Linked DNA regions of Homo sapiens: region 1 is linked to region 2. Evidence: fine-mapped expression QTL. Tissue or cell type: whole blood. Region 2 holds a variant in brackets; the other region holds the start of a gene. All regions are shown on one strand. Distances are between the middles of the regions.

Evidence for each region. PIP is the estimated chance that this variant, and not a neighbour inherited with it, causes the effect.
Region 1: it holds the start of IATPR, and the variant in region 2 is fine-mapped to the expression of IATPR in whole blood (INTERVAL, PIP above 0.99). The same link has a PIP of 0.9 or more in Th17 cells.

Annotation. Positions count from the first base shown.
Region 1 is chr10:33,113,149-33,119,125 of GRCh38, reverse strand. It overlaps IATPR (ITGB1 adjacent tumor promoting lncRNA), which reads left to right and starts at 2,319. Exons shown (of 3, transcript NR_160030.1): 1 at 2,319-2,655.
Region 2 is chr10:33,070,776-33,079,043 of GRCh38, reverse strand. The region is part of intron 2 of ITGB1-DT (ITGB1 divergent transcript); the gene reads right to left. It overlaps IATPR (ITGB1 adjacent tumor promoting lncRNA), which reads left to right. Exons shown (of 3, transcript NR_160030.1): 2 at 4,061-4,182; 3 at 4,798-5,018. Among named protein-coding and RNA genes, the nearest start is that of IATPR, 42 kb to the left of the region's middle. RefSeq lists an enhancer at 2,614-3,115. The variant A/C (reference allele first, on the strand shown) is at 4,951.

The DNA.
Region 1 (5,977 bases), 41 kb before region 2:
ATACCACAGAATATCTCCATGGACCAGCCACTAGAATGAAAGTTCCATCTTTGTCCAGTTCTATGGTAGCAACAGAACATAGCAAGTTAAGGCATAATGGCCTCTGCTCTCTATAATAGGTATGGGCTCACGTTTATTTTCTATGTCAGGCCTTCTAGTGGGTATAATAAAGGTAGACACAATCTTTATTTCTATATGCTGACTAGACGCAAGGGAGAAGTAGTGACCCAGAAAAGACGAGTGGTGGGGGTGGAGTAGATGGTGAATAAGGTTTACAGTGATTCCTACTTAGTAAAGTTCAGTCACATTCTCAGGAGTGCATCTGTCTACAGCTGAGCTGAAACTAGAAGGCGAACAGTGAATAGAACAAGGATCAGAGGCTGTGCCACTGACACAGCAAACACTCCCATTTGTCCCTACAGTGTTCCACAAAAAACAAACCTGAAAAACTGTATCCAAGTCTCTGGTGGGGGCCAGGGGTCCAAAAATCTGCATATTTAACCAGTATCCCAGGCAATTGGGGGCACACTAAAATATCTGTGTTCCTGCATGTCACCTGCTCAACAACTCAGAAGGTTACAAAAAGTAATCCAAGACTCAGGGAGGTTCTGTCAAACAGTGCCTGGGAGAACCAAACTTGAGCCCTTCTGATGCCAGAAATAGACTGTGTTCTTCACTGCACATTGCCACAACCTGGTGGCAAGTCTTTACAATTCTCTGAGCCTTGGCCTCCTCTTGTGTAAAGTGAGAGGTTAGGATTTCTTTTGTGTTTGGCATTTGATGATGACCCGAGGTGAAAGAGTTGTCTGCATCCAAGACAGCTGGATACCAAGGTGCCATTTTGGATCAGAGAAACTTGCACAAACTCTGGGCCAAATGGTTTTACAGTGGTCTCTGACTCTCTCAGACTAATTTAAGATGTATCCCAGAACGATTAGCCTATGGCCCATTTATATCAAGATCCAGCTGAGTTCTAATTGGCACGAGCAACCGCTGGCATGGTACACACAAGTGCTTGCAAAGGTGATTGCCAACAGCCACCCAGCTGCAGCGGAGAGGATGTGGGCACAAACCCTTCAGATTAGGGTGTGTCACTTGAGACCAGGCCAGAGCCATCAAAGCACCCTGTTTTCCTCCACCCTTTCCGACTGCCCCAAGACTGGCACAGGGTTTAGTAATAGCGAAAGTAACACTTGCCCATGTAGGGACCAACAGTCTTTTCTAGGTTGAGTTTTCTAACTTGAGTGAGGTGCCAGACAGAAAGATGCCACCAGAGAGATTTGGCTCCCCAATGTGCCATGCAGTAAAGCCTGGCCCTTATGGCCTGCCGGACAGCATTACAACAAGTGACAAGCGCACATTTACTGTCATGGCCTGACTGAAAATCCTTGTCGTCTTAATTTGTCATTCCGAAATATATGAAAACACCTACTTAGGCCACAAAGCCTTCTTTTTTGCCTAATGGTGTTCTAGAAATAAACTGGCAGTGAAGGATACTGCATTGTTACGGGGATGTTGTCAGTTGGTTTCGTTTATCCATTTATCAATGCCATTTTGCAAGAAATAGTCTCTGCTTTAGAGATGACACTTCATACATAACAGGGAGGGCGTGAGTTTTCCTTAACTGCCAGAACATTACATAATATAACATGTCACCAGGCCTCAAATGCAGCAGCAAAGACTCTGTATATAGGCGACTCCAGAGCCAACATGTGCTTAGCCAAAAAAAATGATTCAATGCCTTCAGAATGTGGGATGCAAAATGAGATTCTGTAGGAGTCAGGGGTCAATGGTGGGAGAGTGCAAGAAACAGATCTGACAGCTCCCAAGTTCGGGGCAATCTGTTCTCAGTTAACTAATAGTTGAGAGGGATCGCTGAAGGATACAACATTGATACCCCAAAGCGCTCCAATCAGTTTCACTATTTGGCCTGATTTTATGTGTCTGTTTTCCATTCCTCCCTAACTCCTTCTTGGGCTGCAGAATGGGCCTCATTTGCAGGTTTGGTTACCAGTTATCAACTTCCACTGTGATAAAGGACAATTAGGATACAACATTGATACCCCAAAGCACTCCAATCAGTTTCACTATTTGGCCTGATTTTATGTGTCTGTTTCCTATCCCTCCCTAACTCCTTCTTGGGCTGCAGAATGGGCCTCACTTGCAGGTTTGGTTATCAGTTATCAACTTCCACTGGGATAAACGACAATTAGGAGGTGGTGGGGACAGGAGTCCTGCCTGTGAAGTCCCAGTTAATCACCAAGCCATACAACCTCCCCTAAAGAGTCAAGAGCGGATGCAGGCTGTTGATGTTTTTCATTCAAAGCTCGCAATGCACCGTTCTGAAAACTCTCCAGCGTAGAATTCAGGAACCCTGAGTTTTCTATCTCTGTCTAGTTCTGGACTGAATGGGCTCAAGTCATCTAGTTAACCTCTCTGGATTTCAGTCTTCTGAAAAGTGAAGCTAAGAGATCTAGCATTCTGCAGAAAAGTACTGGAGATGACTCAGGACTGAAAATGATCATGAAGCCCCTTTGCAAATATCAAAGTGGTGATGAAGCAGTCATGAACTTTGACCAGAAGCCGTGTTTTGTGGGATTGCCACTTTAATCGCTCCTGTTCATCATTAGGACTGCAGCCAGAGTGTGGAAGGAGGTGAGTGCTTTGGTGGTCTTGCTAGGTTGCGGAGCGTGGGCTTTTGTGGATATGCAACAGTGCCCTCTATTGGCATCCGGCATATTTTAAGCCACTGGAGCTGATAAGTCCATTTTCCTCTGCCCTGTGTCTTTGTACTTCTTAGTGGAGGCCCAGAGAGCTTGTGTGTAAGGGGCTGTGACCAGACTGCTCAGCAAGGGCTTTTGCTTCGCAGAGTGCTGCGCGTACATTAGAAAGCTGCTGAGTGGAAATCTTATTCCCTGGGATTTTAAACAGCCACATTTCCTGGCGTTTGACATCAATGGGACATTTAGCAAATGGAGTGCCAGATGGAGCTCCTGGCTCTATTTTCTGTAAGACACTTGAGAGTCAGAACCCTCCCAATGTTTGCGCTTGATAGGCTTGCCCACCGTAGGGCTGGCCACGGCTCAGTGGATGCGGGGCATTCTGCGGGCTTGCAACGCGGGGAGAGCGGGGACACACAGGATAGCACGTGGCAGCTCGGCCTGCATTGCTACACACAAAAGCATTTCAAGTTCCAGCATCCTTGGTAATTCACTTTAACACTCAGTCACTCACTTCTCTTATGTTATCTGACTTCCTTACAAGCCACATGCAAGAAAACAAATAGTAATTGACTCACACTTTCACAAGCACTGTCTCTCCTGAACTTCTCAAGGCAGTAAGCAAGGCAAACCTCGGTGCCACTGTTTTGGAGATCAAGAAATGGAAGCTTAGATTGTTGAGGGACTTGCCCACAGTTCCATGGTATCACCTTATAACTTATAGAAAAAGCAATGAAATCTCAGATTTTTTCTAATATCTAAGCAGTGCTGTCTTCCCCACCCCCCACCCCCTTTTGTTTTTTGAGACGGAGTCTCACTCTGTCTCCCAGGATGGAGTATAATGGCATGGTCTCGGCTTGCTGCAACCTCCACCTCCCAGGTTCAAGGGGTTCTCCCACCTCAGCCTCCCTAGTAGCTGGGACTACAGACACAGGCCACCACACCCAGCTAATTTTTGTATTTTTAGTAGAGACATGGTTTCACTATGTTGGCCAGGCTGGTCTCAAACTCCTGACCTCGTGATCCACCCGCCTCAGCTTCCCAAAGTGCTGGGGTTACAGGCGTGAGCCACCACTCCCGGCCTCTCTTCCCCCTTTCTATGTGAACACATGTACTTTTATTAAATCATTTTGATTATTTTCTATTAATAATTCACATTTATATGAATCACAGAATTCAAGATTACTATATAGTCCCTAGAAATTGCTTTATTACTCACTATATTTATGAAGGCTCCTAGTAAATCTCCATGATGATATTTGGAGAGTCTCTGATATATTCAAAGTTGTCCTGTTTTTATACTGAAGGCAGCCGACACTGATCCAGTCAATGAAATCGTGATTCTCTAAGAATGAATATTTGGATTTTTTTTTTCTTTTCATAAGGTTGCGTGTCTTTGGTGTTCAGGCAGGTAGATGCCACATTGCTTTATTAAATTGGTGTAATGGAGCATGGATTTTTTTATATTGTCATATGCAGTGATAATCTAAAATTCTAGAGCTATGATTCATCTCTGAGGATGTTTTACTCATATTGCACAATAACCAAAAAGTATTTAGACCTCAAACAGCGGGTTAACTGGGCATGGCCCTGTCCTTGTACAGTTTGCATGCTGTTATTTTTACAGATGTTCTCCTCAGTTCCCACCTTAATTCAGGTCAGGGGAGTTAATGGGAAATGAAACTGCATCTCCTCTACTTCCCTCCTTCCTGCACGGTTGACTTGAATTATAAACCAACAGCTATGCTCTGCCGGTTGATAACTGAGTTGTTTACCACCTCAACCAGAAGATGCAACGATTAGCTGTTTTTTTCTGGCTTTAGAAAAAGGTTACCTCGTAAATAGATGAGGAGACAATCTGCATATCTGCCCCATCTTACCTTTGACTTAGATACCTACTTCCCTACTGAAACAATAAACCAGTCTCTGGCTGTTGCTGCAGAAGAATCTGCTACAGAAATATCTGTCACACTTTAAAATTGTTTCCCACACACCAAACAAGCTCAACCGCTCTTCTCTTGTTCCAAAACAAAAGCCTTATCCTGTAGGACTCTTTCAACAAAAACCAATGAAGAACACCTTTACTTTTTCAAGTAAAACTAAAAATAATGATCACAAAACAAAAACTTGCTCTTTATATTTATTCAACTTCCTCTAGCCGCCCCCTACATTAAACCAAGTGTTTGAGAAGAGTTTCAAGAAATCTTAACTTCAGAAGGAGTTTTAGGAAGTTCCTATTGCAATCTCTGATTAACGTGGAAATCCATTCTCTTGATAAATACTTCCACTAACAAAGAGGCCTCTCTTTAAAAGATTGTCCATTCCTTTTCTGGAGAGTTCTAAAAGAGGATAATCAAAAGGAAAGACCCTTCTTTCACTGGAATTTATGTCTTAGTAAGTGTTCATTTCAGATATATTCACAAGTAAAAAGAGAGTAAACTCTAAGACTCAAAAATGGGCCATTTCTATGAAATAAGGACACAACAGATCGAAGCTGAAAGATTTGATCAACCTTATCAATTGTTGAAAGACAAGTCTTATAGAAGGAAGCTCGGCCAACTCCAAAACTGACTCCTTTCCAATGCTTAGTGATCATCTGGACACACTTGTGGAATGTGACATTTTGGTCTAACACAAGCACAGAATAACATGTAGCATATACCCAAATGAAATGAATCACTAGCGAACGGATCCTTAAAGTCTACAAAAACCAACCACAGGGCTGTAATGAAAGAAAGTGATGACAGACAAGTTATAACATACAGCCAGCCAAATTCCGAACACAGTATTTTGGCTGACTAGTCTTGGACATGGGAAGAATTATGCTGTTCAATTTACAACTTATTAAAGAGGGAAAGAAGTCATCGATACAGATGGTTGGTTCTATATCAAAGAAGACTAGGAGAGGTGATATTACAGAGCTTCTATAGAGCAAACTGTCAAGCAGTACTTAACTCACTTTTCCCCATAACTAATCATTAGAAAAGAATGAATTTTCAAAAGGTTAAAAAAAAATTGCAGTGTTCTTAGTAAGCCATGGTTTTGCTCACTTATCTGCAAAAGCCTGGACATGCTGATAGAGTCAGCTTCATTCCTTAGGCAAGGCAATAATTACTTTTTCACATGGTGCATGTTCTCTGCAAGCAGTTGCTCACGACATGTGGAATGAAATGCCTTTGTTAGGGGGTGGGGAGAGTTTATCATAATGTTTTATGCTAGTAGATGAAATCTGCCCCTAAATATAACATAAAAACTAC
Region 2 (8,268 bases):
AACAAAAATTAAAAATCACCCAGGCATGGTGGCGTGTGCCTGTAGTCCCAGCTACTTGGGAGGTGGAGGTGGAAGGATTGCTTGAGGACAGAAGTTCAAGACTAGCCTGGGTGACATAGGGAGACCTCATCTCCAAAAACAAACAAACACAACAAACAGCAGCTAGAGTATCAAAAAGAGGAGAAGAAAGTAAAAGTCAGAATGTTGAGAAACACCTACCCCGAGGCATCCCTCAGAGGAAGAAGAGGAGACAGAAATTAGGAACATTTAGGGCAGGAGCACGGAGACACTCCAGCAGACGGGGCCAAATAAATGAAAAATGGACAAGGAAGGAAGGAGAAGGAAAGCTCCACGTGACTGAATCTGTCCTAGGCTGGCCTCTCACTCTCTGGGCTCTGACGGTTTACAGTGACTGATGAGGGCTCTCATGGGTTCTCTAGAGATACCCTATGTGGGTGATGTTTTACCTTCGGTAAAGACAAGCCTGGGGCATTCCCTTCCTTGTCCTCTCTCCTCTCCTCTAATCTCACAGAGATAGAAAACCAGAGTGTCGGGGGATGTGGCTGGCAAATCAAAGCTCAAGTTGGAGAAAATCAAAGTCAACCACTCCCCTCCCTCTCAGCACCTACAATGGTAGGGAAAAGGGTATAGCTGTAACCTTGAATGAAGTGGCAAGTTTTGGTGATGTCTCTGAATGAGACATTAATTACTGATTAGAAGACTTCTCATTCCCTGAAGGTGACCATAAAAGTCATGGTGATCCAGGAGCAAGAGACTAATTAGCTCCACAGCACAAAGGAGCTATAGGAGACAAAAATAAAATGACTTAATAATTACACCCTGAAGCCATACTTGTTCAACATCGTGATTATAAAAGAATAAAGGTATTGGGACCACTGCTTTTCTCATGGGTAGCAGGATGTTGAACAGGACTTTTTCTGTTGTCTGGGAATTGTGGCCAAAAACCCAAGGTTGAAAACAGTAATACTAACGGCCCCTAAAGATAATTGACTTGGATGGAAGCCAGACACTTCTCCAAGGCTATTTGACCCTGCTACAATCAATCCACCATTTGCCCCCAGATCATATTTGCAAAAAACTAGTTGGAATTGGGAGTTGTTGACTTAGATGAAAGGTGCTGGGGCCTTTTCTCTCTCTTCCCCACTAGCAGGTGAAGGGGCAATGTACTCTTCAGTTTCTATTGCTTTCTAACAATTGGCACCAACTTAGTGGCTTAAAACAACATGAATTCACCAGCTCACGGCTCGGTAGCTAAGAAGTCCAGGCACCATGTAGCTGGGTTCTCGTTCAGGGTGCCACAAGGCTGGAACCAAGCTGTTGGCTGGCTGGGTTCACACCTGATGTTCCAAGTCCTCTTCCAGCTTCTTGTGGTTATTGGCAGAACTCAGTTCCTTGTAGCTATAGGACTGAGGTTTCCACTTCCTTGCTGACTGTCAGTCAGGGGCTGCTCTTAGAGGGCACCCACATTCCTCACCACATGACCCCTCCATCTTCAAAGCCAGCAAAGCTCCCAAGTTAAATGATTCTCATGCTTCAAATCCCTTTCCAGGAAGAGCCCAGCCCCTTTTTAGCACTTTCCTGATTAGGTCAGACCCACCCTCCGTAATATCCCTTTCTTTCTTTCTTTCTTTCTTTCTTTCTTTCTTTCTTTCTTTCTTTCTTTCTTTCTTTCTTTCTTTTTTTTTTCTTTTTCTTTTTTTTTTTTTTTTGAGACGGAGTCTCACTGTTTCACCAGGCTGGAGTGCAGTGGGGTGATCTCGGCTCACTGCAATCTCCACCTCCCAAGTTCAAGCGATTCTCCTGCCTCAGTCTCCCGAATAGGTAGGACTACAGGTGCGTGCCACCATGCCCAGCTAATTTTTGTATTTTTAGTAGAGATGGTGTTTCACCTTGTTGGCCAGGATGGTCTTGATCTCTTGACATTGTGATCCACTCACCTCAGCCTTCTAAAGTTCTGGGATTACAGGCATGAGTCACCACCCCCGACCAATAATATCCCTTTATTAAAGTCGACAGTGCCATATGTCAGGGACCTATTGCAGGAGCTGAGTCCATCATAATTGTAATCTTGGGGATTGTGCAAGGTGTCCACATCAGGGGCAGGCATCTTGGGGCTGGATTACAATTCTGCCTGACATGGGTATGCCCTCCCAAAAGCCACATACAGGGGGGCTCCAAAGGATCATTTGTGAAGAATAGGGGTGAAGGCAAGACTCACTGGCAGGCAGTCTTCAGGTGGACAGCCTCTGTTACAGCAGACCTGCTCCTCTGCTCTTCATGAAGAACAGAGGGCAGCAGTAACAAGGTCTACACCCCACCCCATGGCATGGCCAGGAGGTGAGAGCTGCCCTGGACATTGTAGAATGGGGAAAGCTCTGACCAGGCTTCCCAGGACAATACCTAAGCCACACTTGCTGTGAGCATGCCAGGGGGCATGGGGGCTGAGTGGTGCAGCCAGAAACATCAAGCCAGATGAGCTCCCCACATCAGCAAACTATACATGGGGAGGCAAGCACATCACCCTCCAAAGCACCCACCTGTGACCCACCTGGAGAGTCAGGTTTCTGATGCCTCCATCTACAGACATCAACAGCCAGGAAAGGCCGGGAGCAGTGGCTGAAGCCTGTAATCCCAGCACTTTGAGAGGCCTAGGTGAGCGGAACACTTGAGGTCAGGAGTTCAAGACCAGCCTGGTCAACATGGCGAATCCCCGTCTCTACTAAAAATACAATAATTAGCCGGGCATGGTGGCAGGTGTCTGTAGTCCCAGCTACTTGGGAGGCTAAGGCAGGAGAATTGCTTGAACCCGGGAGGTGGAGGTTGCAGTGAACCGAGATTGCCCCACTGCACTACAGCCTGGGCGACAAAGTGAGACTCCATCTAAAAAAAAAAAACAGCCGAGAGAGCTCCAACAACAGCAGCTAAATAAAAGCATTTGTCCCTTTTCTCTAATCACTTTGTTTCATGTCAACTACACAGCGGCTATAAGCAGAAGGTGAAAGAAATAAAAAAGCCAACCACTCCTCTCTCCTCTAGACAAGACTCTCCGTGCCTGGCAGCTCTTGGAGAAGGACATGAGCACTAATCTGACCAGAAATTTAAGTTTTGATCTGGACCCGACTGCATTTTATTTTATTTTTTTGAGACAGGCTCCCTCTGTCACCCAGGCTGGAGTGCAGTGGTGCAATCATAGCTCACTGCAGCCTCAAACTCCTGGGCTCAAGCAATCCTCCTACCTCAGCCTCTTGAGTGGCTGGGACTACAGGCATGAGCCACCGCGCCTGGTCCCCAACCGCATTATAACCGAGAAGCTGTGGGACCTATCATTAAGAGAAATGAAATGCAGATTCAACAGAACATATTGTAAGGTTGCATTTGGAGGAAAAATAAATACTTCTTGTGTGTTTCTCACTAAATTCATACCGTTTAATAAACCAATTACATTTACAAACATGCTGAACTCTCAACAGAGTGGTCTGAACTCTTGGGAGTAGACATAGTTCCAACTACCACAGAGAGTGGAAAAAAATTCAGAGTGGCCTTTCAACCAGAGCCCAGACACTGGAGTCTCAAAAATGTGTGCAAATGTACCGGGCACAGTGGCTCATGCCTATAATCCCAGCATTTTGGGAGGCCGAGGTAGGCGGATCACTTGAGGTCAGGAGTTCAAGACCAGCCTGGCCAACATGGTGAAACCCTGTCTCTACTAAAAATACAAAAATTAGTTGGGCGTGGTGGCTCGAGCCTATAATCCCAGCTACTAGGGAGGCTCAGACAGGAGAATCACTTGAACCTGAGAGGTGGAGGTTGCAGTGAGCCGAGATCCTGCCACTGCACTCCAGCCTGGGCAACAGAGCAAGACTCCATCTCAAAAAAAAAAATTGTGCAAAAGTGTGTGTGCACATCCATGAGTGTGTGTGAGACAGGGTGTGTTTGCATGTGAGCATGTGTGTGCAGAGTGAATATCAGGGTATCCACATGAGTGTGTGTGTGTATGAGGAACACATGAGATTGAACGTGTGTAATTGTATATCTCCAGTGACAGCACAGAGGAAGAGATGGTCCAAGACCAAAGAGGAAAGAAATGGCATAAGATGGGACAGTGTTCTATGATCTCTAACTGGCCAAAGAAAAATGAGAAACAAATTTAAAAGAAGACAGGTAAGTAAAGTAAGTTTAGCTGTAATTTGGATTCTCATTTAGGAACCAGGGTCTTAATCTAGAGGGAGAAGGAACTCAACATAATGTACTGTAATGGGGGTTTCCAGACTTGCTAACTTTATTCTCTCCCAAGCCATTTGTCTCTCTGTTAGTTTAATAATTTTCCACAGCTGCTGTGTAATATAACTACTGATGTACTACTGAGCCAATTTCTCCCAGCCAGTCCTACTGCCAGAGAAACTAATGGGAAGAGATAGCGCCAGGGTCTACCCTGCAAACCTGCAAGGGCTTGCAAATTGGGTCACAGTTTGCTCGTTGCTGAAGGGAACAGCACACACAGGCTGCCATCTCCATTTAATTTTTTTCTTTGTCTTGCAAACAGCAATATCTTTCTTTTGGAATTCTGAAGAAATCGATTGCTTTCATATTTCCCTGGCTCTTTAAGGAACAAAAAGCAAGTCCTGAAAAGTAAAGACATTCCTTTTAGGTCCAACTCACAGAAATTGTGGTGCAACAGCAGTGTTCGATTCCAGAAAGAGCAGGGATTCTATTTCTGTCAGTCTTATGTCTCCCTGAAACCATTTTACGATTATTTTGTGTCCTCTGTTTTCCCAGTTGGATGACTTAAACACCACCCCTGAGAGGCAGCTGTTTCCAGAATATTGCACAATTTATTGAGTTCATGAGAATCGTGATCGTTGGCAGCACCGAACTTCACGGAGGGAATCATAGGCACTTTAATTCCAATTTGTTGACTTATGGAGGAAG[A/C]AATTTCTCCCAGTGGTGTCCCTTCATCCAGGAACAAGAGCCATCAAAGTGTCACAGACTTAGAGCCGGAAGGGCTCTCCGCTAGTGTTTCTGCCAGTCCTCTTGGTTTTACACATGAGGAAACTGAGGCCCAGAGAAGTTACCCAGTAGCAGATCTGCAAGTCACCCAGTAGCAGATCTGCAAGGAGCTCTTAGCAATCCTGACTCCAAGTGTAATGCTCTTGCATTAGCTCTGTGCTGCCTCCTAGATGTTGGTCTTCTTAATGTTGATAGCACATTTGCTCAAATGTTTGCTAATATGGTTTGGCTGTGTCCTCACCCAAATCTCATCTTGAATTGTAGTTCCCATAATCCCCACTTGTCGTGGCAGGGACCCAGTGGGAGGTAATTTAATCATGGGTGTGGTTACCCTCATGCTGTTCTCATGATAGGGAGTGAAGTCTCACGAGATCTGATGGTTTTATAAACAAGAGTTCTCCTGCACAAGCTCTGTTGCCTGCTGCCATGTAAGAAGTCCCTTTGCTCTTCCTTCATCTTCCGCCATGATTGTGAGGCCTCCCCAGCCATAAGGAACCATGAGTTCATTAAACCTCTTTTTTTATAAATTACACAGTCTCCAGTATGTCTTTATTAGTAGCGTGAGAACAGACTAATACATTTGCCCTGCAAAACTTCCTTATTCTTAAGCAAAGTGATTTCCAAATTTTCTTCATTAGACACATAATTTAGAACTACGATTAACTAAACACTAACTGGGTGTCAATTACTGTACTATTTCCTGCACATGGACACATTTAGGGTCAAAGTACTGTACCAAGTATAATTTTCCTAGAAGCTATAAAATGTAGGGTATCAGTGAATGGAAAAAATAGAACATTAATTAATAAAAGAAATCTACTACAGAGAATCTTTTCCCCCTAAATATAACCATAGAGACTAGGCTGGTCATTATTTGCAGTTCACAAAAGAAAGAGGCTACAGAAATATTCACAGCTATTGAACGAGGTGGCTGGCAAGTGAATTTGGTGTAGGTGCATAAATTTGTGTGCTGGGGGTGTGTTATAAAAGAATAAAGTCTGGGTTCAGCTGGGTGATGGCAGGAAAAACAGGATCCCAGAAGGAGGCTGAAAGAGTTGGGAACAGATGGAATGACTGGCCTACATGTCAAGTCTCTTCAGCTGCCCACCTGGCCACAGAAAAGGCAAAGCTCTGCAAATGGATCATCTCGTTCTTACTGTAACACATAACAAGCAGTGGGCAACACAAACTCACCTGTGTCAATGGAAAGAGTTAAACTCTGTGACATATTTCAGAAGCTTTATTCTGAGTCAGATATGAGTGACCAAGGCCCGTGACACAGCCCCAAGAGGTCCTGAGAACATGTGCCCAAGGTGGTTGGGTTACAGCTTAATTTTATATCTTTTAGAGAGACAGAAGTTGTAGGCAGACATCAATTAATACATGTAAGGTGTACATTGGTTGGGTCTGGAAGCAGTTGTGGGGGACAGGCTGGGAGAGTGGGTATGGCTTCCAGGTCATAGTGGATTCAAAAATGTTCTGATTGCCAATCAGTTGAAAGCGTTAAGTTATTATCCAAAGACCTGGAATCAACAGAAAGGAAAGTCTTCTAGGTTAAGATAAGGGGTTGTGAAGACCAGGGATTTCATTATGCAAATGAAGCCTCTAGGCTGTAGAGAGAATAGAGAACAAATGTCTTTTATCAGACCTAAAAACTTGCCGAACCCTTAGTTAAATATCTCCCAGATGAGGTAAAGACCTAGAAAGGGAAGAGGATTCTCTACAGAATGTAGATTTCCTCACAAAAGACAGTTTTTCAGGGCCATTTAAAAAGATGTCAAAGAAATCTATTTTGGAGTAAAATACTTCAGTGTCTTTCAGGGCCTGCCATCTGTCCTATGATGCTATACTAGAGTCAGGTTGGAATTTGGTGTCTTCCCACTACAAAGAGTCTGCTTTGTCAGTCCTAAGATCTCTGTTTTAATGTTAACCCTGGTCAGTTGAGCCTGAATTCCAAAGGGAGGAGGGCATAAGGAGGTCTATCCAACAAGCCCCTCTTCCCATCACAGCTTGAACTAGTTTTTCAGGTTTACTTTGGAATGCCTCGGCCAAGAGGGAGATCCATTTAGTCATTCTGGAGGCTTAGAATTTTATTTTTGGTTTACACCTGTTATTTACCTTTTTTCTGCTACACTGGCAAAATAACCCCGTCTGCCCCTGAAAAAGGCTTCCTGGTAATCTCTCTCAGGAATCAGGGTGATTTCTCTAGTTGTTGGCGAGTTTGACAGATTGCAGGGGAAATGCTGCTTCATAATCCTGCTCCAGATGTGTTCTGACCCTAGAAGTGAACACCGAGAGCGTTCCGGTCCAACCCTACAGGAGACCAGGGAAGGAGCACCACCCAGAGAGAGAGTTCCGTACCTAAGTGCACCTTCATTTGGTATTTAAAAAAAAAAAAAAAAAAAAAAAAACAGCAAAGATGAAGGAATGTTGACAGGGCCACATGACATCAAACTAATCAGCAAGATCCCCCTCCAAGAAGTGTCTGAGTTCAAGGAATGAAAGTATTCTAATCAAACACAGAGCTTGAGAGGAGTATAAAAGACTTGGCAGAGAATCACTGAAGTAGGAAATTAATAAGGTTCAAACCTAGTGTTAAACAAGCCTTCTGAATTCCAAAATCCAACAAAGCATCTTTGGTTGTGTTCTGAAGTTAAAGAAACTATAGTCAAGGGTAACAAGAGGTAAGGGTCCCAGCTACAGGGGGCGGGGTGGGCCTTGGTTTGCTCAGTCCCCATTAAGCCAATGTTGGGGCAGGCAAAGACGGGATGAGATGAGAGAGGCTCCACCGTGCAAGCGTGAGGGCAGATCCTGCCTTTCTTTATGACGTTAATATTTTGTTCATCATGGATTTTTTCCCATTGACTTTTACATTTAAAAACATTTCACAGCTGGGTGCAGTGGCTCATGACTGTCATTCCAACACTTTGTGAAGCCAAGGTGGGTGAACTGATTGAGGCCTGGGCAATACAGAGAGACCCCATCTATACAAAAAACATATATAAATTAGCCAGGCATATGTATGCCTGTAGTCCCAGCTAATCTGGACTCTGAGGCTCTGGAGGATCCCTTGAGTCTGGGAGATGGAGGCTGCAGTGAGCCATGATTGTACCACTCCATTCCAGCCTGAGCAACAAAGTGAGGCTCTGCTTCAAAAATAAAAAAAAAAATTAAAAACACTAAAAAACTGACCAAAAAAAGACACAATATATATATATTTAAAAACCCACTTCATTTAAA